Regions from separate parts of the Homo sapiens genome. Here region 2 is linked to region 1. The links come from fine-mapping of genetic effects on gene expression. A gene starts in region 1. The other region holds a variant in brackets. All regions are shown on one strand. Distances are from middle to middle.

Region 1 (11,599 bases):
TTGTTCGCCTTCTGTGCGTCACCAAGTAATCTGGTTCATCTTTCGTCTCATTCATGTTATTTTCAAGTGAAACAAGACATTTTGGGGGTCAAGTCTCTTTGGGTGTTTTGTTTTTATGTATATAAAAATGGATTTTGTGTTCCCTTTCCATGTAAGTACCAACTTATATGGAAACTCACAATCATAATGTAAAGAAGAAATGAAAGCCTGGTGTATTGTACTTCAAGATGCCTCCCTGATGTATAGAATCTCCTTGTAAAATAAATAATTGCATTGTATATCAGTCTTCTCATCAATATTAATTATTAAATATTTTAGAATTTTTAAATACCAACTATACTATTCTGGTGTGAGGTATTTTCTTTTACATTACACTCTATCCCAAAAGATTAAATCCAGCTTAAAAATGATATGTAAGCCAGGTGTAGTGGCTCACACCTGTAATCCCAGCGCTTTGGGAGGACAAGGCAGGCGGATCACCTGAGGTCAGGACTTTGAGACCAGCCTGACCGACAGGGAGAAACCCCATCTCTACTAAAAATACAAAATTAGCTAGGCGTGGTGACACATGCCTGTAATCCCAGCTACTCGGGAGGCTGAGGCAGGAGAATCACTTGAACCCAAGAGGCGGAGGTTGCAGTGAGCTGAGATCGCGCCACTGCACTCCAGCCTGGGCAACAAGAGCAAAACTCCGTCTCAAAAAAAAAAAAAAAAGAATTTATATTAACCACATATAATTGGACCCCCAAGATGACATTACAAAAGGACACTTAGTACTTTTTCTTTTTTTTTTTTTTCCCCAGGACGGAGCCTTGCTCTGTCACCCAGGCTGGAGTGCAGTGGCATGATCTCGGCTCACTGCAACCTCTGCCTCCCGGATTCAAGCAATTCTCCTGCCTCAGCCTCCTGTGTAGCTGGGAGTACAGGCGTCTGCCACCACCCACGGCTAATTTTTTGTATTTTTAGTAGAGACGGGGTTTCACCATGTTGGCCAGGCTGGTCTGGAACTCCTGACTTCAGGTGATCCGCCTGCCTCAGCCTCCCAAAGTGCTAGGACTACAGACATGAGCCACTGCACCCGGCCCAGGACACTTAGTACTTCATGTTATCTTTTCCAGCAAGCAGCCCAGTTTCAGTCCAGGTGGCCTCAGCAATGACTCACTTCTATTTGTCACTTAAGAGACTGGCCTTGTTTAGTGCACCACCCTTTACCAAGAGTTAAAAGAAACCATGAGTCAGAACTCCTTGTGTCCACCTGCTTCCAGATTGTCCTTCTACTAGCCCTCCAAAGAAGCCTCAAATTGCTATTGCCCTTTTGAGGTTAAATTGTCTCCAGAAAGCTGTTTTGAAGATGAAGATTGCCCAGTGTTTGCCAAAACAATGAATGAATTTTGGGTCTCTGTGGATTTATATAACTGTACCCCAGGAAAAGGCAGGTCCAGCCCGGTGCAGTGATGCACACCTGTAGTCCCAGCAGCTTGGGAAGCTGAGGTGGAAGGATCAGTTGAGCCCAGGAGTTCAATACCAGCCTGGGCAACATAGACCTTGTCTCTTGAAAAAAGAGGAGCAGGTCCAATGGACACTGAATAGGCAAAGGATGAAATAATAAGCATAAAAAGATGACAATGTGCAACAAAGAAAATCCTATCCTTGAAGCCAAAATACAGCCAGCACCACTGTTTCAACGTTCTATTCCATTTCAGCCCTAGGAGGCATGAAGGGAAAACCAGGAATGACCAGCAACCCAGACCTCTTGCTCCATCTGTCATTTTGTGTGGATATTGTTAATTTCTTCCCCAAAGAATTTTGCCTCCTATGTAGAGCATAGAGGTCATCTGACAGGAACAAACAGCTTTAATGTTCCTTCATTTGGCACTGAGGACACACAGTCCTCAGTGAGGATTGTGGGAGGGGGAGCATTAAATAAATTATTTAATGCTTACCTCCTTCCTACCCTCACCCGCAACAAAGACACAATCTTCCCGTGACCCCAATTTCTCTTCAATCTATTACCCTCTCTCCTGCTTTTCCTATACTCCCTTCACACAATCTATTCCAATGTTAAACAACCCAAGTTCTCAGGCCAGGCAGCTGGGCTAAATGATTGACAGAGGAAGAACTAGTGATGGAGATGTAAACTGAACAGGCTTCTTGGCCTTGCTTCATAACCTCTGGTCTGTGCACATTGTTTTCCCTACCTAAGGCCATATTCACTCAGCTCATTAAAATCTAAACGAAATCCAAACCAATATGGCTTTCCTGTGGTCACCAGGGATTTCTCAGCCTTCGGTTATTGCACTTGGCTGCTTTGCAACATTTGGTGCTTTGGACAATGTTCTAGTCCTCAAAACTCTTCTTCCTTGGCTTCTGAGGCACCGCTGTCTTCTGGTTCTCCTTCCCTGACTGACCTTTCTCTGTGCTGCTGGCTTCTTCCTCGAACACCATTTAAATGCTGGGTTTTCGGCCAGGTGCGATGGTTCACGCCTGTAATCCCAGTACTTTGGGAGGCCGAGGCAGGTGGTTCACCTGAGGTCAGGAGTTCGAGACCAACCTGGCCAACATGGTGAAACCCCATCTCTACTAAAACTACAAAAAAATTAGCTGGGTGTGGTGGCATGTGCCTGTAGTCCCAGGTACTTGGGAGGCTGAGGCACGAGAATTGCTTGAACCCGGGAGGCAGAGGTTGCAGTGAGCCAAGATCACAACACTGCACTCCAGCCTGGGTGACAAGAGTGAGACTCCATCCAAAAATAAATGAATAAAATAAAATAAATGAATGCTGTGTTTTACCGGGTGTGGTGGCTCATGCCTGTGATCCCAGCACTTTCGGAGGCCAAGATTGGCAGATCGCTTCAGGCCAGGAGTTCAAGACCAGCCCGGGCAGTATAGTGAGAGGCCATCTCTACCAAAAATTTAAAAAATTAGCTGAGCATGGTGGTGCATGCCTCTAGTTCCCGTTACTCAGAAGAGGCTGAGGTGAGAGAATCGTTTCAGCCCTGGTGGTCCAGGCTGCAGTAGTCCTGATCACACCACTGCATTCCAACCTCAACAACAGAGCGAGATCTTGTCTCAAAATAAAATAAATGCTGGGGTTTCATGTCTTCCCATCACTCTCCTCATTCTTCCAAGACGACTTTAGCCACCATGCTAATTCTTACAACTTCTAAATATTTTATCACCAACTCAGATTTCTTACAGGAAGCCCAACCCCATATATCTAATTGCTCTTTGGACTTATATACAACCAGATGTTACTCAGGTAACTCGTATATACTCCAATGTGGACATTACTCCTCCCCCACTGCCTGCATTTCCACTTATCAAGGTTAGAGACCATAGTATGTTCAGCCTCCTAAGCCTGAAACTCTGGTATCCTCAAGTTCTTCTCTTACCTTGCAATTCCAGTGGGACGACAAACCCTACATCAGAAATGTCTTTTTTTTTTTTTTTTTTTTTTTTTTTTGAGATAGGTTCTTGCTCTGTTGCCCAGGCTGGAGTGCAGTGGCATGATCACGACTCACTGCAGCCTCCATCTCCTGGGCTCAGGTGATCCTCACACCTCATAAGTAGCTAGGATTACAGGAATGTGCCACTACACTCAGCTAACATTTTTTTTAAAATTTTGTAGGCCGGGGTCGGGCGCAGTGGCTCAAGCCTGTAATCCCAGCACTTTGGGAGGCCGAGGCAGGTGGATCATGAGGTCAGGGGTTCAAGACCAGCCTGACCAACATGCTGAAAACCCGTCTCTACTAAAAATACAAAAATTAGCTGGGCATGGTGGCGGGCGCCTGTAATCCCAGCTACTCAGGAGGCTGAGGCAGGAGAATTGCTTGAACCTGAGAGGCGGAGGTTGCAGTGAGCCGAGATCGCACCACTACACTCCAGCCTGGGGGACAGAGTGAGACTTCATCTAAAAAAAAAAAAAAATTTGTAGGCCGGGCACGGTGGCTCATGCCTGTAATCCCAGCACTTTGGGAGGTCAAGGCGGGCAGATCACGTGGTCAGGAGTTCAAGACCACCCTGGCCAATATGGTGAAACCCCGTCTCTACTGAAAATACAAAAATTGGTGGGGCATGGTGACACTTGCTTGCAGTCCCAGCTACTCGGGAGGCTGAGGCAGGAGAATTGCTTGAACCCAGGAGGCAGAGAATGCAGTGAGCCAAGATCGAGCCACTGCACTCCAGCCTGGGCAACAGAGCAAGACTCCATCTCAAAAAAAAAAAAAAAAAGAATTGCTGCGATAGTAAATAATGTACGTAATAAAGCATTCAGAACAAAATCTAATATGTAGGAGGAACACCATAAACGTTACTACTCAAGATAGCCCAGCTGTGATAGCTCTGTCTCTCTAGCCAACGTTTTTCCACCTTACACCACACTAAAAATTCCATCATATTTGCAACATTTCTTATGTATATATATCGTAAGCATTCTTTACTTGCCTACTTCATATTCAGAGGGTTTTGTGTGTGGTAAAATATACATAAAACTTGCCATTTTTAACTAGTTTAAAATGTATAGGGGGCCAGGTGTGGTGGCTCAGGCCTGTAATCCCAGTACTTTGGGAGGCCAAGGCGGGCATCACTTGAGGTGAGGAGTTCGAGAGCAGCCTGGCCAACATGGTGAAACCCGGTCTCTACTAAAAATACAAAAATTAGCCGGGCATGGTGGCATGCCTATAGTCCCAGCTACTCGGGAGGCTGAGGCAGGAGAACTGGTTGAACCTGGGAGGTGGAGGTTGCAGTGAGCCGAGATCACACCACTTCCTTCCAGCCTGGGCGACAGAGCGAGACTCCGTCTCAAAAAAAAAAAAAAAAAAAAAGTCCAGGTGCGCTGGCTCATGCCTGTAATCTCAGCACTTTGGAGGCCGAGGCGGGTGGATTGCTTGAGGTCAGGAGTTCGAGACCAGCCTGGCCAAGATGGTGAAACCCCGTCTTGCTAAAAATACAAAAATTAGCCAGGCACGGTGGCGGGCGCCTGTAATCCCAGCTACTGGGGAGGCCGAGGCAGGAGAATCGCTTGAACCCGGGAGGCCGGGGTTGCAGTGAGCCGAGACCGCGCCATTCCACTCTAGCCTGGGTGACAGAGCAAAACTCCATCTCGAAAAAAAAAGAAAGAGTATAGGGCAGTGCTTTTAATTACATTCATTCACACTGTTGTGCAATGGAGTTTTTTATTTTTTATTTTTATTTATTTTTATCCGGGCCAGGCCTGGAGTTTTTAAACTTTTATCTGATTCGTCTAGGGGCACTTTCATCTTATTTACCTTCACATTTATCAAATTATTTCTTTCACAGGTGACAGAGCAGATTCAATTCCTTTTGATACTCCGTATTTCTCTATATGTATTTTTTTCATTCTGCATTCTTATTATTCCAACGTTTTACTTATTTATTTGGAGAGAGAGTTTCGCTCTGTCGACCAGGATGGAGTGCATCGGCGCGATCTCGGCTCACTGCAACCACCGCCTCCCAGGTTCAAACGATTCTCATGCTTCAGCCTCCCGAGTAGCTGGGACTGGAGGTGCGCGGCACCATGCCTGGCTTATGTTCTGTATTTTTTGTAGAGACGGGGTTTCGCCATGATGCCCAGGCCGGTCTCGAACTCCTGGCCTCAAGCGATCCGCCCCTCACGGCCTTCAGAGCTGCTGTAATCACAGGCGTGAGCCACCGCGTTCGACTCTTCCAAAAACTTTTTGGCCAGTTTATCTAAGGGCATATCCTACAGACTGAGTCCAGTGATTGCACAGAAGTAAACGTCCTCTGCAGCTACATACCTACAAACCTATTTCTGTAACGTACATTCCCCAGCAAGGTCCCGCGGGAAGGATCCACTACCGCGAGAGGCCTCCCAGCCAGGAAGGGGTGGGGCTCAATCTGCAGTAGATTCCCAGAAGCCTCAGTGAGTTTCTGATTCTCTAACTGCGCATGCTTCTGCGCACGCGCAATAGACATTCCAGGACTTCCGGGCACTTCGTAAGGTTTAAAAAGGATGCTTCGCGTTTTCTCTCTCCTTTTTGGAGACAGATTCGCAGTGGTCGCTTCTTCTCCTTGGTAAGTGTGATCCTTGGTAAGTGTGATCAGATGCTTGCCACCGGAGTTGTGGGTCTAATGCTATAGATCAGTAGCCGAGCTTCCCTAGGAAGATCATATAGTATTTTATTTATTTACTTTTTTTTTTTTTTTGAGACGGAGTCGGTTTGTCACTCAGGCTGGACTGCAGTGCTCGTTGCAACCTCCGCCTGCCGGGTTCAAGCGATTCTCGTGCCTCAGCCTCTCCAGCAGCTGGGATTACAGGCACGTGCCACCACGCCCGGCCAATTTTTGTATTCTTAGTGGAGACGGGGTTTCGCTATGTTGGTCAGGCTGGTTTTGAACTCCTGATTTCCGGTGATCCACCACCCTCGGCCTTCCAAAGTGCTGGGATTACAGGCGTGAGCCACCGCGCCTGGCCGGAAATCATGTAATTTAAAACTATATATGGGTGTCTTAGGCGGCATCGGTCCCAACTCTAAAGTACGCGTTAGACGGGCCTGGGCCAGAAGTGGGCCATGGAGACCTCGGGACCCGCAGGGCTGCCGCCCGACCCAGCGAGCCTCTGAAGGTGCACCGCCACCCCCACTGTTTATCTTACTGCCTCATAGTAGGCACATTGTCGTTCTCAATATAATTGCACACAGTTTTATTCTGGATCCTCATTTGCCTTTAAGAATTTTCTCAATTTTTCTTTTTATTTGATCGCACCACTGCAACCTCCGCCTGCTGGGCTCAAGCAATTCTCCTGCCGCAGCCTCCCGAGTAGCTGGGACTACAGGCGTGTACCACCGCGCCTGGCTTATTTTTGTATTTTTAGTAGAGACGGGATTTCACCATGTTGGCCAGGCTGGTCTCCAACGCCTGACCTTGTGGTCCGCCACGCCAGGCCGAAGATTTTCATAATTTGGAAGCATTGCGTTTCGTAATTATGCTTTCTCGTATTTTTGTGATTTGGGTCATTTTTATTTTTATATTTTTAGGATTACAGGCGTGAGCCATCGTGCCTGGCCGATTTGGGGGTAATTAACAAGTCCACGTGTTTCATTTGAATTTAGGATAGCTGGGCCTAATTGTTGTCTTTGCTTCTGCGGTACCTTCCACATAGTACTAACCGCCTATTGTAAAGTAATTAGAATAGCTGAATATGCATGTTACCAGTCTAGAAACCGATTTTTTTTTAACACCCCACTGTGGACAGGGTGGAAACTCGTTTGCTTTCTTGTTTAAGATCTGTAGTAACATGAATGGATGAAATTGTTTCCTATTGGATTCTGTAAATTTATGCGTTACACTGATTGTCCAACGTGGATACACCCGGGAGGTCACTCTCCCCGGGCTCTGTCCAAGTGGCGTAGGGGAGCATAGGGCTCTGCCCCATGATGTACAAGTCCCTTTCCACAACGTTGGAAATAAAGCTGGGCCTCGTGTCTGCGCCTGCATATTCCTACAGCTTCCCAGAGTCCTGTCGACAATTACTGGGGAGACAAACCATGCAGGAAACAGCCTTCTAGAGCACTGAATCTGGATTGAAGTCTTTTTTTTTTTTTTTTTTTTTGGAGATGGAGTCGCTCTGTTGCCCAGGCTGGAGTGCAGTGGCGCACTCCATTGCCTCTGCCTCCCGGGTTCAAGTGATTATGCTAAGTGATTCTCCTGCCTTGGCCTCCTGAGTAGCTGGGATTACAGGCCCCCGCCACCACGCCAGGCTAATTTTTGTATTTTTAGTAAAGACAGGGTTTCACCATGTTGGTCAGGCTGGTCTCAAACTCCTGACCTTGTGATCCGCCAGCCTCTGGCCTCCCAAAATGTTGGGATTACAGGCGTGAGCCACCACACCTGGCTGGATTGAAGTCTTAATACATGTTTAAGAAAAATTGGCTAAAAAGTAGCCAGGCATGATGATAGGTAGCTGGAGGAAGGAGAATCGCTGGAGCCCAGGAGTGACCTATACTCAAACCTATACTCCAGTGCCACTGTACTCCAACCCCAGGCGATAGCATGAGGCCCCTCGTTGAAAAAGTTTAGGGTTTTGCTGTACTAATAGATTAATATCTTGTTTTGCAGGATTTGTTAAGGATTCCAAGTAACTCTTATTTGGTGAGTAAATCTGCTAATTGTTTTTTGCTTATCAGCTCTTTGTCAATGATTTCTGTAATGGAAATAGGATTGAAGAGACTTTTATTCTAGTTGGTCAGGATTTACCTCTGAGGCATTTAATCATTCTCAGAGCAATAGCCAAATATCGACTTTGCTGCATTTTTGTAGGCATGTTGACATAACTTCAACATATGCTCTGTTCTGTAAAAATTGCTTTTTTTAGTCAGCTCATTAAAAGTGCAAAGTAGTAAAAGCTGCCCTAGTGAACTGTAGGAAGCCTAATTGGCTTTATCTACATGTGTAGCCTGAGCTGAGAAAGATACTAGCCCTTGAAAATACTGTGGGTGATTAGCAATATTGGATTTGTCGGTTACTCCAATTCCTCACTAATGAGCATTCCAACGTGGATACCCTGGGAGGTCACTCTCCCCAGGCTCTGTCCAAGTGGCATAGGGGAGCTTAGGGCTCTGCCCCATGATGTACAGTCCCTTTCCACAACGTTGAAGATGAAGCTGGGCCTCGTGTCTGCGCCTGCATATTCCTACAGCTTCCCAGAGTCCTGTGGACAATGACTGGGGAGACAAACCATGCAGGAAACATATCTAGTATACTAGATTTTAAGTTGAAGTAGGATCTTCAGGAGTCTAATCATTATTTCTTTTCTTTTAGGAGAGAAGACGATCTGCACTTCGCATTTTGGCATTGACATTTAATTTTAGGGTCCTTTATATAGAAGGGAGAGTAGGTAAACTGATTTTTTTTTTTAACAGGGAGGGTTTGACAATCTTTGGCAGACTTGGAGCAAAAGATTGAGGTGCATTTCATGCCTCCTTTTGAGAGTCTTGCTCTGTCGCCCAGGCTGTAGTGCAGTGGCGCAATCTTGGCTGCAACCTCAGCCTCCCAAGTAGCTGGGATTACAAACATAAGCCACCACGCCCAGCCCTCATACCTCTTTTAAAAGTCGACCTGTTTTGCAGAAAGTCTGCTGTTTTTGTACTAAAGGCTTTGGAATTTGGCATTTAGCTAGGAATGCACATTCTTTCACCTCATTCATACTTTAAGAACCACAGAAGTGACTCTGCTTGGCCAGAAGGCACACTGTGTTGGTGGTTATATTAAAAGTCCTTGAGTATTTTGCTTTTCATGATCTTGCTCACTGCAACTTCCGCCTCCCAGGTTCAGGCGATTCTCCTGCCTCAGCCTCCCAAGTAGCTGCGACTACAGGCGTGTAGCACCACACCTGGCTAATTTTTGTATTTTTAGTAGAGATGAGGTTTCACCATATTGGCCAGGCTGTTCTCAACTCCTGACCTCGTGATCCGCCCACCTCAGCCTCCTAAAGTGCTGGGATTACAGCTGTGAGCCACCCTGCCCGGCCACTTTTGTATGATTTCTAATGTATTTGTAATTTACCTAACAAATTGCCTAATCTGCTATGTTAATGTATTTATGAATTAAAATAAATACGACTGCATGTTTGTGGTTCATTTTTGTGGAGGTGGCTGTGGTGACATCAGCCAAGAATCTGAATGGTACTGTTGAAGGAAACTAGCATGATAGCTTCAGTTCTAAAGGCCCTGAAACCTAGTCTCAGGTGGGTCCCCCTTGGGTTCACTTTATATTGGCAGTTTATTGGGAAAATGGATATTAGGTCCTGACCAATAGGACCGTAAGTCTGGGTTGAGTGCAAGATGAGTTAGACCGATTCTTTAGCTTCCTGCAGTGTAGTGGAGGAAAAATCGATGGTAGCAACGGGAGGTTGTATCCCTAGCTGATGAGTTGTATGAGCCTCTACTACCTGGCGCACCTCCGCCTGAAGATTGCCAGAATTGCTTGCCTCATGACGTGAGTCACAATGGAAACTTTGTCAAGCCCCCTGCACTGGCTGCCAACATAAATGTTCAGTACCCTGAAGGATGGGACTGAAGGGGGATCATCTAGAAGGTAAAGTTACCTACTGGCATAGGGGAGGTGGGACAGCCGTTAAGCCATTTGGAACTTGATGGAGACAGGTTTGAGGGAGGTGGGTGAGATTGGAGTTTGGTGGACTGTAGAGCTTGCTTGCCAAGGTGTTGAGGTCAGGGTTGGTTTGAGAATGGAAGCTAGTTACTAGCTATGATTGTGGGGGAACACAGCTTGATTTTTCTTACAAGCTAAGAGGAGTGAGGCAGTGTTTAAGAGGGCATGTTAAATGCAGCCAGGCTTGGTGGCTCACACCCGTAATCCCAGCACTTAGGCTAAGGCAGGCGGATCACAACATCTAGAGATCCTGGCCAACGCGGTGAAACCCTGTCTGTACTAAAAATACAAAATAACTGGGCATGGTGGTGTGCACCTGTGGGAGGCTGAGGCAGAATTGCTGGAACCCGGGAGATGGAGGTTGTACTGAGCTGAGACCTTGCCACTGCGCTCCAGCCTGGTGACAGAGTTAAGTCTCAAAAAAAAGGCATCTTCCTAAAGCAATTGTATTTGTGCTTACCTGTGCCAGGCACTGTTCTAGGTAAGCACTAAGTGGGCTTTAATACAGCATATTCCAATGGGGAATCCCAGGAACCAAAAGACTAATTGTCCAAGTCCACAACTAGAAGTGGCACCTCTGCAGAAACAAGCATCAAATTCCCTGCTCAGGAAGAAGCCAGATGAGTCAGCCCCATTCGTCTGTATGCCCAGTCCCATCCGTGTCCTGCTGTAACTACATAGATCTCACCTGAGTAAAGTGATTTTTTTCTGAACCAGTGGTTTTAGTATGTTTTCAATCCATATACTCAGGTGGGTTTGGGTAACTGCAGTGCTGGGCAGGAAATGAATGAATTTCTATTGACTTGCAAGGTAGAGGTGAAGCAAAGCTGTCAGTAGGTGTTCAGGTCCCACTCTGCTAAACTTCAGCTTGCAATACCCCTTTTTTAGACTTTCCAAACAGGCACTTCTGGCCTTGTTCTTTGTGTAGGCAGACAGTATTGGTTGCCTATCTTAGGAGTACTAGACTGGGTTTGAATCCTGATCCCACCACTTGCTGTTCATGAGACTTTGGGTGAGTTACTCAGCCCCTCTGCCTCAATTTCATGTTCACAAAATAAGTGATAAACTACCTCATAGAGTTGTAATAAGGACAAAGGAGTTGGTATTTGTGAAAAGATTCTTAGGGTCTCTAGATGGAGTGCAGCAGCATGATCACTTATTAAATAACATTCTTTTGTGACTTCTCAGAAACCAAGGATACAGTATCCAATTTTTTGTTTTTTGTTTTTTTTTTTTTTTGAGAGGGAGTCTCGCTCTGTCGCCCAGGCTGGAGTGCAGTGGCACAATCTCAGCTCACTGCAAGCTCAGCCTCCCCAGCAGCTGGGACTACAGGTGCACGCCGCCACACCCGGCTAATTTTTTTGTATTTTTAGTAGAGAAGGGGTTTCACCATGTTAGCCAGGAAGGTCTCCATCTCCTGACCTCGTGATCCGCCCACCTCGGCCTCCCA
Region 2 (12,408 bases), 67 kb after region 1:
GCGCAGTGCTAGGGAAATAAATATTTATTAAATGTTAGCTTGCATTAATTTATTCCTCTGCTAGAATTTGAGCTCAGGAGAGCAGGAACGTTGTCTTTCTGTGACTGCTGCATCCTGTGCGTAGCACAGTGCCTGGCATACAGGGCAGACTGTAAATATTTGCTGAATTTTCTTCTATGAGTTACTTTCCAGCAGGGTGTCGGGGAAGCTCCTATTTGGGAATGTTCCCTAGGGGTGAAGGTGTCGAGGAGGATGGTGAACTGAATGTGGGAATTCCTGCAGATATTAGAATTGTTTGTACTTGGATCTTGACACTATGTGGACACCTGTTGATGGGACTCTCCTTTCTTCCTCTAGTTTAATGGACTCTCTCTTTCTCTTCTCAGCCTCTTTTCCTTTCTACATTCCTGCCCACCTTCTTATCCTTACTTCTTTTTCATGTGTCCATTCTTAGACTTTAATCACATTTGTGATCTAAATTGTATATTTTTTTCATGCAGGGGTTATGGTTTTGTGAAATTCACAGATGAACTGGAACAGAAGCGAGCCCTGACGGAGTGCCAGGGAGCAGTGGGACTGGGGTCTAAGCCTGTGCGGCTGAGCGTGGCAATCCCTAAAGCGTGAGTCCTGCAGGGAAGGTAGAGAGACTCTAGACTCCCCTCCAGACACTCCTCTTTTGTTTGCTGAGAATCAGGGCATCCATACGCTGGATGGGAGGCTGAAGGGGATCCAATTCAAGTCACAAGTACTGAATGCCTGCTGTTTGCCAGGCTGTGGGTGCTGGGGTTGAACTAGCCCCACTCCTGCAGAAACTTAGAGTTGGGGATAGAGTATGATTTGGAAAGGCTGATGTATTCAGACATTACTGGTGACAGCATTGGAAAAGCTGTTTGGCTGTCCATACCTGATGTCCCTGTTCTTTGCCCAGTAGTCCCATTGTTGGGAACTTATTCATAGAATTAATAAGATTTGAATAAAGGGGAAAAAATTACTTCCATTTTTAGCCTTATTTATATTAATGAAACTACAGCCCTCCTATGAGTGTTCCATGCTGTGGGAATGGATAAGAATTAGTATTCCAGACACTTGGCCGGGCGCAGTGGCTCACACCTGTAACCCCAGGACTTTGGGAGGCTGAGGTGGGCGGATCACCTGAGGTCAGTAGTTCGAGACCAGCCTGGCCAACATGGCAAAACCTCATCTCTACTAAAAATACAAAAATTAGCCAGTCATGGTGGTGCATGCCTGTAGTCCCAACAACTCGGGAGGCTGAGGCAGGAGAATCGCTTGAACCTGGGTGGCGGAGGTTGCAGTGAGCCGAGATGGCATCAGTGCACTCTGGCCTGGGCAACGGAGCAAGACTCCGTCTCAAATAAAAAAGAAAAATTTTCCAGACACTCTACAGAACATTATATACTTCACTATCACACCTGTCATGCTAGGTAGAAAATCTTCTTCCCTTACAACTCCAAACTTTTCTCTGAATGGGATTTTTTGTTTGTTTGTTTTTTCCCTGAGTCAGGATCTCAAAGTCACCCAGGCTGGAGATCATGTCTCACTGCAGCCTCGACCTCCCCAGGCTCGGGATCCTCCCATCTCAGCCTCCTGATTAGCTGGTACTACAGGTGCACACCACCATGCTAGGCAAATTTTGTGTTTTTTGTAGAGATAGGGTCTTGCTTTGTTGCCCAGGCTGGTTTCGAATTCCTGGGCTCAAGCAATCTGCCCACCTTGGCCTACAAAAGTGTTGGGATTACAGGCATAAGCCATTGTGCCTGGCCAGATCTTTTATCCTTTAGCCAAATTAATGATTTTCAACTGGAGTGATTTTGCCTCCCAGAGGACATTGACAACATCTGGAGACATTTTTGGTTATCACAACCAAGGATGTACTAATGGCACCTAGTGGGTATCGGCCAAGGATACTGTTAAACATCATGCAATTCATCGGACAGCCACCCACCCCTCCACGTCAATAGATCCAGGGCTGAGAAACTCTACCCTAAGAGTAGTTGAACTATTTTTTTTTTTTTTTTGAGATGGTGTCTTGCTCTTTTGCCCATGCTGGAATGCAGTGGCGTGATCTTGACTCACTTCAGCTTCCACCTCCCAGGTTCAAGCGATTCTCCTGCCTCAGCCTCCCGAGTAGCTGGGACTACAGGCATGTGCCACCAAGCCCAGCTAATTTTTGTATTTTTAGTAGAGACAGGGTTTCACATGTTGATCAGGCTGGTCTTGAACTTCTGACCTCAGGTGATCTGCCTGCCTTGGCCTCTCAAAGTGCTGGGATTACAGGCGTGAGCCACTGCGCCCAGCCAAATAGCCATGTTTTTGAAAGCAATGATTTAGGGGTTCTTTATGGTTTAACTGTGTTTAATACATTGAAGATCAGGCTTAGTGACTTCTCCCAAAAATGTTATTTGTTGTAAATAAATTATTATATAAAAACATTAAATTAGCTGGGCTTGGTGTACTCCTCTAGTCCCAGCTGCTCTGGTGGCTGAAGTGGGAGAATTGATTGAGCCTAGGAGTTCAAGGTTACAATGAGCTATGATAACTCCACTGCACTCTAGCCCAGGCAACAGAGTGAGACCGTGTCTCTTAAAAAACAAAATAGGCTGGGCGTGGTGGCTCATGCCTGTAATCCCAGCACTTTGGGAGGCCGAGGTGGGTGGATCACAAGGTCAGGAGATCGAGACCATCCTTGCTAACATGGTGAAACCCCGTCTCTACTAAAAATACAAAAAATTAGCCAGGTGTGGTGGCGGGCACCTGTAATCCCAGCTACTCAGAGAGGCTGAGACCGGAGAATGGCATGAACCCAGGAGGCAGAGCTTGCAGTGAGCCAAGATTGTGCCACTGCACTCCAGCCTGGGTGACAGTGTGAGACTCCATCTCAAAAAAAAAAAAAGGCCAGGTGCAGTGGCTCACGCCTGTAATCCCAGCACTTTGGGAGGCCGAGGCGGGCAGATCACAAGGTCAGGAGATTGAGACCATCCTGGCTAACATGGTGAAACCCCGTCTCTACTAAAAATACCAAAAAAAAAAAAAAAAAAAATTAGCCGGGCGTGCTGGTGGGCGCCTATAGTCCCAGCTACTCGGGAGACTGAGGCAGGAGAATGGCATGAACCCAGGAGGCGGAGGTTGCAGTGAGCCGAGATCGCGCCACTGCACTCCAGCCTGGGCGACAGAGCAAGACTCTCTCAAAACAACAACAAAAAAAACGAAAACAAAAGGCGGGGTGCTGTGGCTCACGCCTGTAATCCCAACACTTTGGGAGGCTGAGTTGGGTGGATCACTTGAAGCCAGGAGTTCAAGACCACCCTGGCCAACATGGTGAAACCTCATCTCTGCTAAAAGTACAAAAATTAGCTGGGCCTCCCAGGATCAAGCGATTCTCCTTCCTTAGCCTCCCAAGTGGCTGGGATTATAGGCGTGAGCTACCACGTCTGTCTCTTTTCTTTTTTTTTTGAAACAGAGTTTCACTTTTATTGCCCAGACTGGAGTCCAGTGGCACAATCTAGGCCCATTGCAACCTCTGTCTCCCAGGTTCAAGCGATTCTCCTGCCTCAGCTTCACAAGCAGCTGGGATTGCGGGCGCGCCATCCCACCCAGCTAATTTTTTGTATTTTTAGTAGAGATGGGGTTTCACCATGTTGTCCAGGCTAGTCTTGGAACTCCTGACCTCAGGTGACCCACCTGCCTTCGCCTCCCAAAGTGTTGGGATTACAGGTGTGAGCCACCGCACCCAGCCCTTTTTTGTTTTGTTTTTTTTTTTAAACAGGATATCCTTTTGCCAGTCCTGACATAGTTTGTTAAGAGAGACAAACCTATCCATTAAAATCTCCTGTATTAAAAGCATGGTCTCTGGAGCCATACTCTCATATTAGCTGTGTGACTTTGGACAAATTACTTAACCTCTCTGTTCCTCAGTTTCCTTATCTGTAAAATAGGAATAATGATACACTTATTGCATATGGTTGTTTTGAGGATTAAAAGAGTTAATTGGTGGCCGGGCTCCCAGCACTTTGGGAGGCTGAGGCAGGCGGATCACGAGGTCAGGAGATCGAGACCAGCCTGGCTAACATGGTGAAACCCTGTCTCTACTGAAAATACAAAAAATTAGCCAGGCGTGGTGGCACACACCTGTAGTCCCAGCTACTCAGGAGGCTGAGGCAGGAGAATCGCTTGAACCCGGGAGGCGCAGGTTGCAGTGAGCCGAGATTGCGCCCCTGTACTCCAGCCTAGGCAACAGAGCAAGACTCTGTCTCAAGAAAAAAAAAAGTTAATCGGTATAAAGCACTTAAAATAGTCTGTGGCCACATAGGCAGTGTTACGGAAATGTTTGCTTACACTTATTTTTGTTTCTGTCTTCATTTAAGGAGCCGTGTAAAGCCAGTGGAATATAGTCAGATGTACAGTTATAGCTACAACCAGTATTATCAGCAGTACCAGAACTACTATGCTCAGTGGGGCTATGACCAGAACACAGGCAGCTACAGCTACAGTTACCCCCAGTATGGCTATACCCAGAGCACCATGCAGGTAACCATGACTTGGCAAGACTGGTCCCCTTGGGTTGTGTTTCTCCTCTAGAAACAGGTCATTCTCTAGGATGGGATTGGTAAGGACAGGGGCTTGGGCTTCAGAAAAAATAGGGAAAGTTGAAGCAGTCCAGTTCCTCTTGTTAAAAATAAGCCATTGTGGGTAGGGCCCAGTGGCTCACACCTGTAATCCTAGCACTTTGAGAGGCCGAGGCAGGTAGATCACCTGAGGTCAGGAGTTCAAAACCAGCCTGGCCAACATGGTGAAACCCTGTATCTACTAAAAATACAAAAAATTAGCTGGGCATAGTGGCAGGCGCCTATAATCCCAGCTGCTCAGGAGACTGAGGCAGGAGAATCTCTTGAAACTGGGATGCGGGTGTTGCAGTGAGCCGAGATCACGCCACTACACTCTAGTCTGGGTGACAGAGCTAGACTCCACCTCAAAAAAAATAAAAAATATAAGCCACTGTGGTCCTGGGCCAGGATTTCACCATGCCCCTAACCCACATCTCTGGTCTCTTGGCAGACATATGAAGAAGTTGGAGATGATGCATTGGAAGGTAAGGGTTCATACGTTCCTTACTCTGTCAGCCATTATCAGGTGACTGCTGTGGCTGGCACTGTGCTCTCAGCTAGAGGGAAGACAAGATAAATTCTGCTCTGGAAGAACTTACATTCTGGTTAGAGAGCCAGACAAATATGTAATTATGGTAAGATGTGTCGGGTGTTACCCAGAGGTGTAAGTGTAGATCCCAGAGAGCCTGGGACAGGCAGCTCCAGGAGAGCCCATCACCCCCTTGACATGTGGCATTCTATCCTGGTATGTGGGCCTCTAACGATAATACTGTTACCCTTTTTTTGTGTGTGTGTGTGGTGGAGTTTCACTCTTGTTGGCCAGGCTGGAGTGCAATGGCATGATCTCAGTTCACCGCAACCTCCACCTGCCAGGTTCAAGCAATTCTCCTGCCTCAGCCTCCCGAGTAGCTGGGATTACGGGCATGCACCACCATGCCCAGCTAATTATTTTGTATTTTTAGTAGAGACAGGGTTTCTCCATGTTGGCTTGGCCGGTCTCAAACTCTCAGCCTTAGGTGATCCGCCCGCCTCAGCCTCCCAAAGTGCTGGGATTACAGGCATGAGCCACTGTGCCTGGCCGATAATACTGTTACCTTTTATTTGTTTGACTGTTTGTAAAATTCATTTTTTATTTATTTTATTTTTTTTCTGTTTTTCAATATATTTTAAAAGACATATTTTCCTGATTTTTAAGTCATCGTTAGGATGGAAAATTTGGAAAATATAGTAAAGTATGGGCCAGGCATGGTGGCTCACGCCTCTAATCCCAGCACTTTGGGAGGCCGAGGCAGGTGGATTGTGAGGTCAGGAAATCGAGACCATCCTGGCTAACACGGTGAAACCCCGTCTCTACTAAAAAATAGAAAAAATTAGCCGGGTGTGGTGATGGGCGCCTGTAGTCCCAGCTACTCGGGAGGCTGAGGCAGGAGAATGGCGTGAACCCGGGAGGCAGAGCTTGCAGTGAGCCGAGATCGCACCAATGGGCTCCAGCCTGGGAGACAGAGCGAGACTCCGTCTCAAAAAAAAAGAAAAAGAAAATATAGTAAAGTATAATGAAACTGAAAATCACCCCATATCCTATTACAACATAGTAATAGCCATTATTAATTTTTTCTTTTTCTTTTTTTTTTTTTTTTGAGGCAGAGTCTTGCTGTGTCACCCAGACTGGAATGCAGTGGC[G/A]CAATCTCATCTCACTGCAAGCCCGCCTCCCGGGTGCAAGTGATTCTCCTGCCTCAGCCTCCCGAAGAGCTGGGATTTCAGGCACATGCCACCACGCCCAGCTAATTTTTGTATTCTTAGTAGAGACGGGGTTTCACCATCTTGGCCAGGCTAGTCTCAAACTCGACCTCGTGATCCGCCTGCCTCGCCTCCCAAAGTGCTGGGATTACAGGGGTGAGCCACCGTGCCCAGCCCATTATTAATTTTTTAATTAAAAATATTTAAGCCTTGCACGGTGGCTCACCCCTGTAATCCCAGCCCTTTGGGAGGCCAAGGAGGGTGAATCATGAGGTTAAGAGATCGAGACCATCTTGGCCAACATGGTGAAACCCCGTCTCTACTAAAAATAAAAAAATTGCCAGGCGCGGTGGCTCACCCCTGTACTCCCAGCACTTTGGGAAGCCACGGCGGGAGGATCACCTAAGGTCGGAAGTTCTAGACCAGCCTGGCCAACATGGTGAAATTCTGCCGGTACTAAAAATAAAAAAATTAGCCAGGCGTGGTGTTGCGCGCCTATAATCTCACCTCCTCAGGAGGCTGAGGCAGGAGAATCACTTGAACCCGGGAGGCGGAAGTTGCAGTGAGTCGAGATCATACCACTGTACTCCAGCCTGGGCAACAGTGCAAGACTCTGTCTCAAAAAAAAAAAAAAATTATCCAGGCATGGTGGCCCATGCCTGTAATTCCAGCTCCTTGGGAGGCTGAAGCAGGAGACTCACTTGAACCCGGGAGATGGAGGTTTCGGTGAGCCAAGAATGCTCCATTGCAGTCCATCCTGGGTGACGAGAGTGAAACTCCGTCTCAAAAAAAAAAACAACAGTATTTACTGTCTAGGCACGGTGGCTAAAGCCTGTAAGGTCTTTGGAAGGCCAACGTGGGTTGGAGGATGGCTTGAGCCTAGAACTTTGAGACCAGCCTGGGCAACATAACGAGACCCCATCTCTTTTTTTTTTTTTTTTTTTGGGAGACGGAGTCTTGCTCTGTCACCCAGGCTGGAGTGCAGTGGTGCAGTCTCCAATCTCAGCTCATTGCAACCTCTGCCTCCCAGGTTCAAGTGATTCTCCTGCCTCAGCCTCCTGAGTAGCTGGGATTACAGGCATGCACCACCACGCTCGGCTAATTTTTGTATTTTTAGTAGAGACAGGGTTTCAGCATGTTGGCCAGGCTGGTTTCGAACTCCTTACCTCAAGTAATCCTCCCGCCTCAGCCTCCCAAAGTGCTTTGATTACAGGCATGAGCCACTGTGCCCGGCCAAGTATTTATAATTTTCACTGAATTTCACAGAAGAAAAAGGAAAGAAAAACTGAAAGCCAAGCATGGTGGCCTGTGGTTCCAGCTACTTGGGGGAGGCTGAGGCAGGAGGATTGCTTGGGCCCAGGAGGTTGAGGCTTCAGTGAGCTGTGACTACAGTTGTGCCCCACCATAACTGGCTATTTTTTTCTATTTTTTTGTAGAGGCAGGGTTTCACCATGTTGCCCAGGCTGGTCTTGAACTCCTAGGTTCAAGTGATCTGCCCATCTCGGCCTTCCAAAGTGCTGGCATTATAGGCATGAGCCACTGCTCCTGGCCAAAACTTTTTTTGAGGTACAAAAAGACTCAAAGTTTGAAATCTGTTTTGAGGATTCGTCTTCAAGAGAAAGTCATAGGGAAAATGTTTTCTGTCAAGAAAATGTTCGTTAAAGGAAACAGATCCCTTTTAGGGCATGAACAAACTTGTCTAGTTCATAACATTTTAAAGCACTTTCTTGTGTCCTCTCATGTGATGCCAACTGTAGTGACCTTGTGGGGTGGGCTGGGAAGGACACAGGAGCTCCATTTCACAGATGGGAAACTAGTGGCTCGGAAAGCCCAAGTGATCTGCTGAGGGTCACACAGTGTGGGGCAAAGTCAGGACAGTCCGGTCTTTTTATATTCAAGTCTCTAGTTGTTTCCCCCTGGGAGACATTGCCTTCTTTCTAGAGATAATTAGCCTCATAATATCTGTAGATAAGTCCTTAGAATTTTCCAATCTCTTTTTAATCCTTTTTTTGTTTTCTTTTTCTTGAGAGTCTTGCTCTGTCACCAGGCTGGAGTTCAGTGGCACGATCTCGACCCACTGTAACCTCTGCCTCACAGGTTCAAGCGATTCCCCTGCCTCATCCTCCTGAATAGCTGGGACTACAGATGCGCGCCACCACGCCCAGCTAATTTTTGTATTTTTAGTAAAGATGGGGTTTCACCATGTTGGCCATGATGGTCTCTATCTTTTGACCTCATGATCCGCCCGCCTCTGCCTCCCAATGCTGGGATTACAGGTGTGAACCACTGCGCCAGGCCCAATGTTTTTTTTTGTTTTTTTTTTTTTTGAGACGGTGTCTCACTCTTGTTGCCCAGGCTGGAGTGCAGTGGCGCGATCTCAGCTCACTGCAACCTCCGCCTCCCGGGTTCAAGTGATTCTTCTGCCTCAGCCTCCCGAGTAGCTGGGATTACAGGCATGCGCCATCATGCCCAGCTAATTTTCTTTTTTTCTTTTTTTGAGACGGAGTCTTGCTCTGTCGCCCAGGCTGGAGTGCAGTGGCGCAATCTCGCATGCCCAGCTAATTTTCTATTTCTATTTTTCTAACCCCATAAAGATGGGGTTTCTATGTTGGTCAGGCTGGTCTCAAACTTCTGACCTCAGGTGGTCCGCCCACCTTGGCCTCCCAAAGTGCTGGGATTACAGGCTTGAGCCACTGCGCCTGGCTTTTTTTTTTTTTTTTTTTTTTGAGATAGAGTCTTTGCTCTGTCGCCAGGCTGGAGTGCAGTGGTGCCATCTCTGTTCACTGCAACCTCTGCCTCCCGGGTTCAGGTGATTCTCCTGCCTCAGCCTCCCGAGTAGCTGGGACTACAGGCGTGCACTGCCATACCCGGCTAATTTTTTGTATTTGAGTAGAGACAGGGTTTCACCATGTTGCCCAGGATGGTCTCAATCCCTTGACCTTGTGATCTGCCCACCTCGGCCTCCCAAAGTGCTGGGTTTACAGGCATGAGCCACAGTGCCCAGTTTTTTTTTTTTTTTGAGACAGAGTCTCACTTTGTTGCCCAGACTTGAGATCAGTGATGTGAACATGCCTCACTGCAGCCTCGACCTCCTAGGCTCAAGTGATCCTCCTGCCTCAGCCTCCCTAGTAGCTGGCACTACAGACACAGGTCACCATGCCCAGCTAATTTTTTTTTTTTTTTTGAGATGGCATCTTGCTCTGTTGCCCAGGCTGGAGTGCAATGGCGTGATCTCGGCTCACTGCAACCTCCGCCTCCCGGGTTCAAGCGATTCTCCTGCCTCAGCCTCCCGAGTAGCTGGGACTACAGGTGCCTGCCACCACGCCCAGCTAATTTTTCTATTTTTAGTGGAGACGGGGTTTCACCATGTTGGCCAGGATGGTCTCGATCTCTTGACCTTGTGATCTGCCTGCCTTGGCCTCCCAAAGTGCTGGGATTACAGGCGTGAGCCACCGCGCCCGGCCGAGACGGGGTTTTGCTCTTGTTGCCCAGGCTGGAATGCAGTGGTGCCATCTCGGCTCACCGCAACCTCCACCTCCTGGGTTCAAGCAATTCTCCTGCCTCAGCCTCCCGAGTAGTTGGGATTATAGGCATGTGCCACCATGCCCGGCTCATTTTGTATTTTTAGTAGAGATGGGATTTCTCCATGTTGGTCAGGCTGGTCTTGAACTCCCGACTTCTGGTGATCTGCCCGCCTCGACCTGCTGAAGTGCTGGGATTATGGGCATGAGCCACTGTGCAGAAAAAATTTTTAATAGTATTTTACCACCAGGGACAGGGACTCATGCCTGTAATCTCAGTACTTTGGGAGGCTAAGGCGGGAGGATCACTTTAACCTAAGAGTTCAAGGCTGCTGTGAGCTGTAAGTGTGCCACTGTACTCTAGCCTGTGTGACAGAGCAAGACCCTTTCTCTAAAGTACATACACACACACATACATACATACAGGACTTGGCCTTTCAGCTCCTATATTTGACTGAAGTTCTTCCACTATGCACTTATTGTCAGTTCTTGAGATGATGCTCTGGACTTAATAACTTTGATCAGACCTTCTAAACCCAAATTTGAAGTGAGGACCAGACCAGAAAATCTAGGATACATGATGGCTAGAGACACAGGTGTAGCTTTTAATAGATGCAGGCTAACAGCTGCCATTTTCCCATTCTCTAGATACATTATTCTATTTTCATCTTCCCCAGAACCCTGCAAGGCAGTGCTTTCACTTCCTGAAAGAAACTGGCAGGATAGGGACCTTACCATAGAACAGAGTTCTGGGAGAAGGGAACTGAACCAGGTCCCTTGCAGCTGTCCCTAGACTTCCCTGACCCCATCCTTGCTTGCTTTCCAGACCCCATGCCACAGCTGGATGTGACTGAGGCCAACAAGGAGTTCATGGAACAGAGTGAGGAGCTGTATGACGCTCTGATGGACTGTCACTGGCAGCCCCTGGACACAGTGTCTTCAGAGATCCCTGCCATGATGTAGCCAGGCCAAAGGACAAGCCAGGTTGCATGATGTGAGGGAGATGAGAGACTCCTTTTTAAAAATTGTGAAACCTTTTTGGAAATATGATTTGTAAGATTTTAATAATGACTGTTTTTGGAGATCATGAATGTTTCTACAACACTGCTGCATTCATTTGACCATTTGAGTTTGAAGACCAAGGGAACAACTTTTAAACAAGGTTCAAATTGGTTTCCTTCACAGGAATCCTTTGTCCAGGTAGTTATCCACATAGGACAGTTTGGGATTATCCAAAACTGGGATGAGCAGCTTGGGATAATTCACACACTAAAGCCTGAGTTCAAGGTTTCTCAGTTGACAGGTAGGTATGTAAATCAGGGTTCTCTGGAGTATTTGTAGGACCTGCCATATTTGAGTCCTAACTTGGTGCAAGTCTGGCAGCTAGGTAGAAAAGGCACTCTAGCAGGTGTGGTAGGAGCACGCCCCAGAAGGTAGAATGTGGTGGGGTGTGATGGAACAGGCCAGTTGGCCTAAGAATTAGTACTTGCTCTAATAATGGGTTTCATCTATTTTCATGAGTTGCAGCATCTGCATATACAAGGCCTGGATCACTTTAGGATCAATATTTTGACACGGGAGAAGGCAGCTCAGAAAGGATTAAGGAAGATAGCTCAAAGCCAAAGCAGACCCTCCGTGTGAACTTTATACTGCTCACTTCCGTGTTTCCCAAGTAAATGGGGAAACTGTCCAACCTTGTCATGTGTTGGGACTTACTGCTTGAGGCAAAGCATTCATCCTACATCATAAAAAATCTCCAAAGATCTCTTTAAGGGCTGGGCATGGTGGCTCACTTTGGGAGATGGATTGCTTGAGCTCGGGAAGAGACCAGTTCGGTCTCTACAAAAAAATACAAACACAAATATACTTTTATTAGTCTTTTTATTCTTCTTTTATTGATCACCTCTGAAGTTCAGTAGCACACTGCATAATTTTTTGCATTAGCATGCTGTTGTTTCTACCTAAAATGACCGGGGTCCTTGCCTTCTGCTTCCCATAGAGATTGTCCTGCAAAGGAAGTGTAAGCCATTGTGTTACTAATTCCCAGATTTCCCCCACCCAGACATTTTCCTAGGAGCTGGTCTCAGTCCCATATCCGCATTTCTCATCCATGGATGTCCACTCAAATTAGGTTTCATCCTGGACCAGTCATTCTAAATACAGTGTGTGCTACATGGAACCCCTTGTTTCTACCCCACTCTCAACTCTCCCTAATGCTGAGAGACGTCCCACCAAAGAATGCATCATGAGCTCCAGCCACCACTGAACATTTGTGGCTACCAGGCCTTGTGGCCCACGGTGCCCTCTGATGCCTTCAATGCATTTTAGGGTGGGTAAATCATGTTCTAACCATCTTTGCCCTCTGGTAATGAATAGCTAAGGGCACACGAGGGAGGCCAAATGTAAATGTTACTAAGATGCTAAGACTTTCTGGCCCGGCACAGTGGTTCATGCCTGTAATCCTAGCACTTTGGTAGGCCAAGGCAGGCAGATCACTTGGGGTCAGGAGTTCAAGACTGCCCTGGGCA

Evidence for each region. PIP is the estimated chance that this variant, and not a neighbour inherited with it, causes the effect.
Region 2: its variant is fine-mapped to the expression of RCC1 in whole blood (TOPMed, PIP 0.95).

The regions. Positions count from the first base shown.
Region 1 is chr1:28,500,031-28,511,629 of GRCh38, forward strand. It overlaps RCC1 (regulator of chromosome condensation 1), which reads left to right and starts at 6,013. Exons shown (of 13, transcript NM_001381865.2): 1 at 6,013-6,054; 2 at 8,098-8,130; 3 at 8,800-8,875. SNHG3 (small nucleolar RNA host gene 3) reads left to right here and starts at 5,913. Exons shown (of 4, transcript NR_036473.1): 1 at 5,913-6,054; 2 at 6,190-6,297; 3 at 8,098-8,130; 4 at 8,800-10,862. It overlaps SNORA73A (small nucleolar RNA, H/ACA box 73A), which reads left to right and starts at 7,335; the gene lies at 7,335-7,541. It overlaps SNORA73B (small nucleolar RNA, H/ACA box 73B), which reads left to right and starts at 8,528; the gene lies at 8,528-8,732. It also overlaps PHACTR4. RefSeq lists enhancers at 6,827-7,121, 7,313-8,078, 9,611-10,376, 10,150-10,369, 11,230-11,279.
Region 2 is chr1:28,566,794-28,579,201 of GRCh38, forward strand. TRNAU1AP (tRNA selenocysteine 1 associated protein 1) reads left to right here. Exons shown (of 9, transcript NM_017846.5): 6 at 501-620; 7 at 4,383-4,545; 8 at 5,074-5,107; 9 at 10,707-11,752. The coding sequence ends at 10,843. It overlaps SNHG12 (small nucleolar RNA host gene 12), which reads right to left. Exons shown (of 6, transcript NR_146382.1): 6 at 11,745-11,887. SNORD99 (small nucleolar RNA, C/D box 99) reads right to left here and starts at 12,029; the gene lies at 11,950-12,029. The variant G/A (reference allele first, on the strand shown) is at 6,303.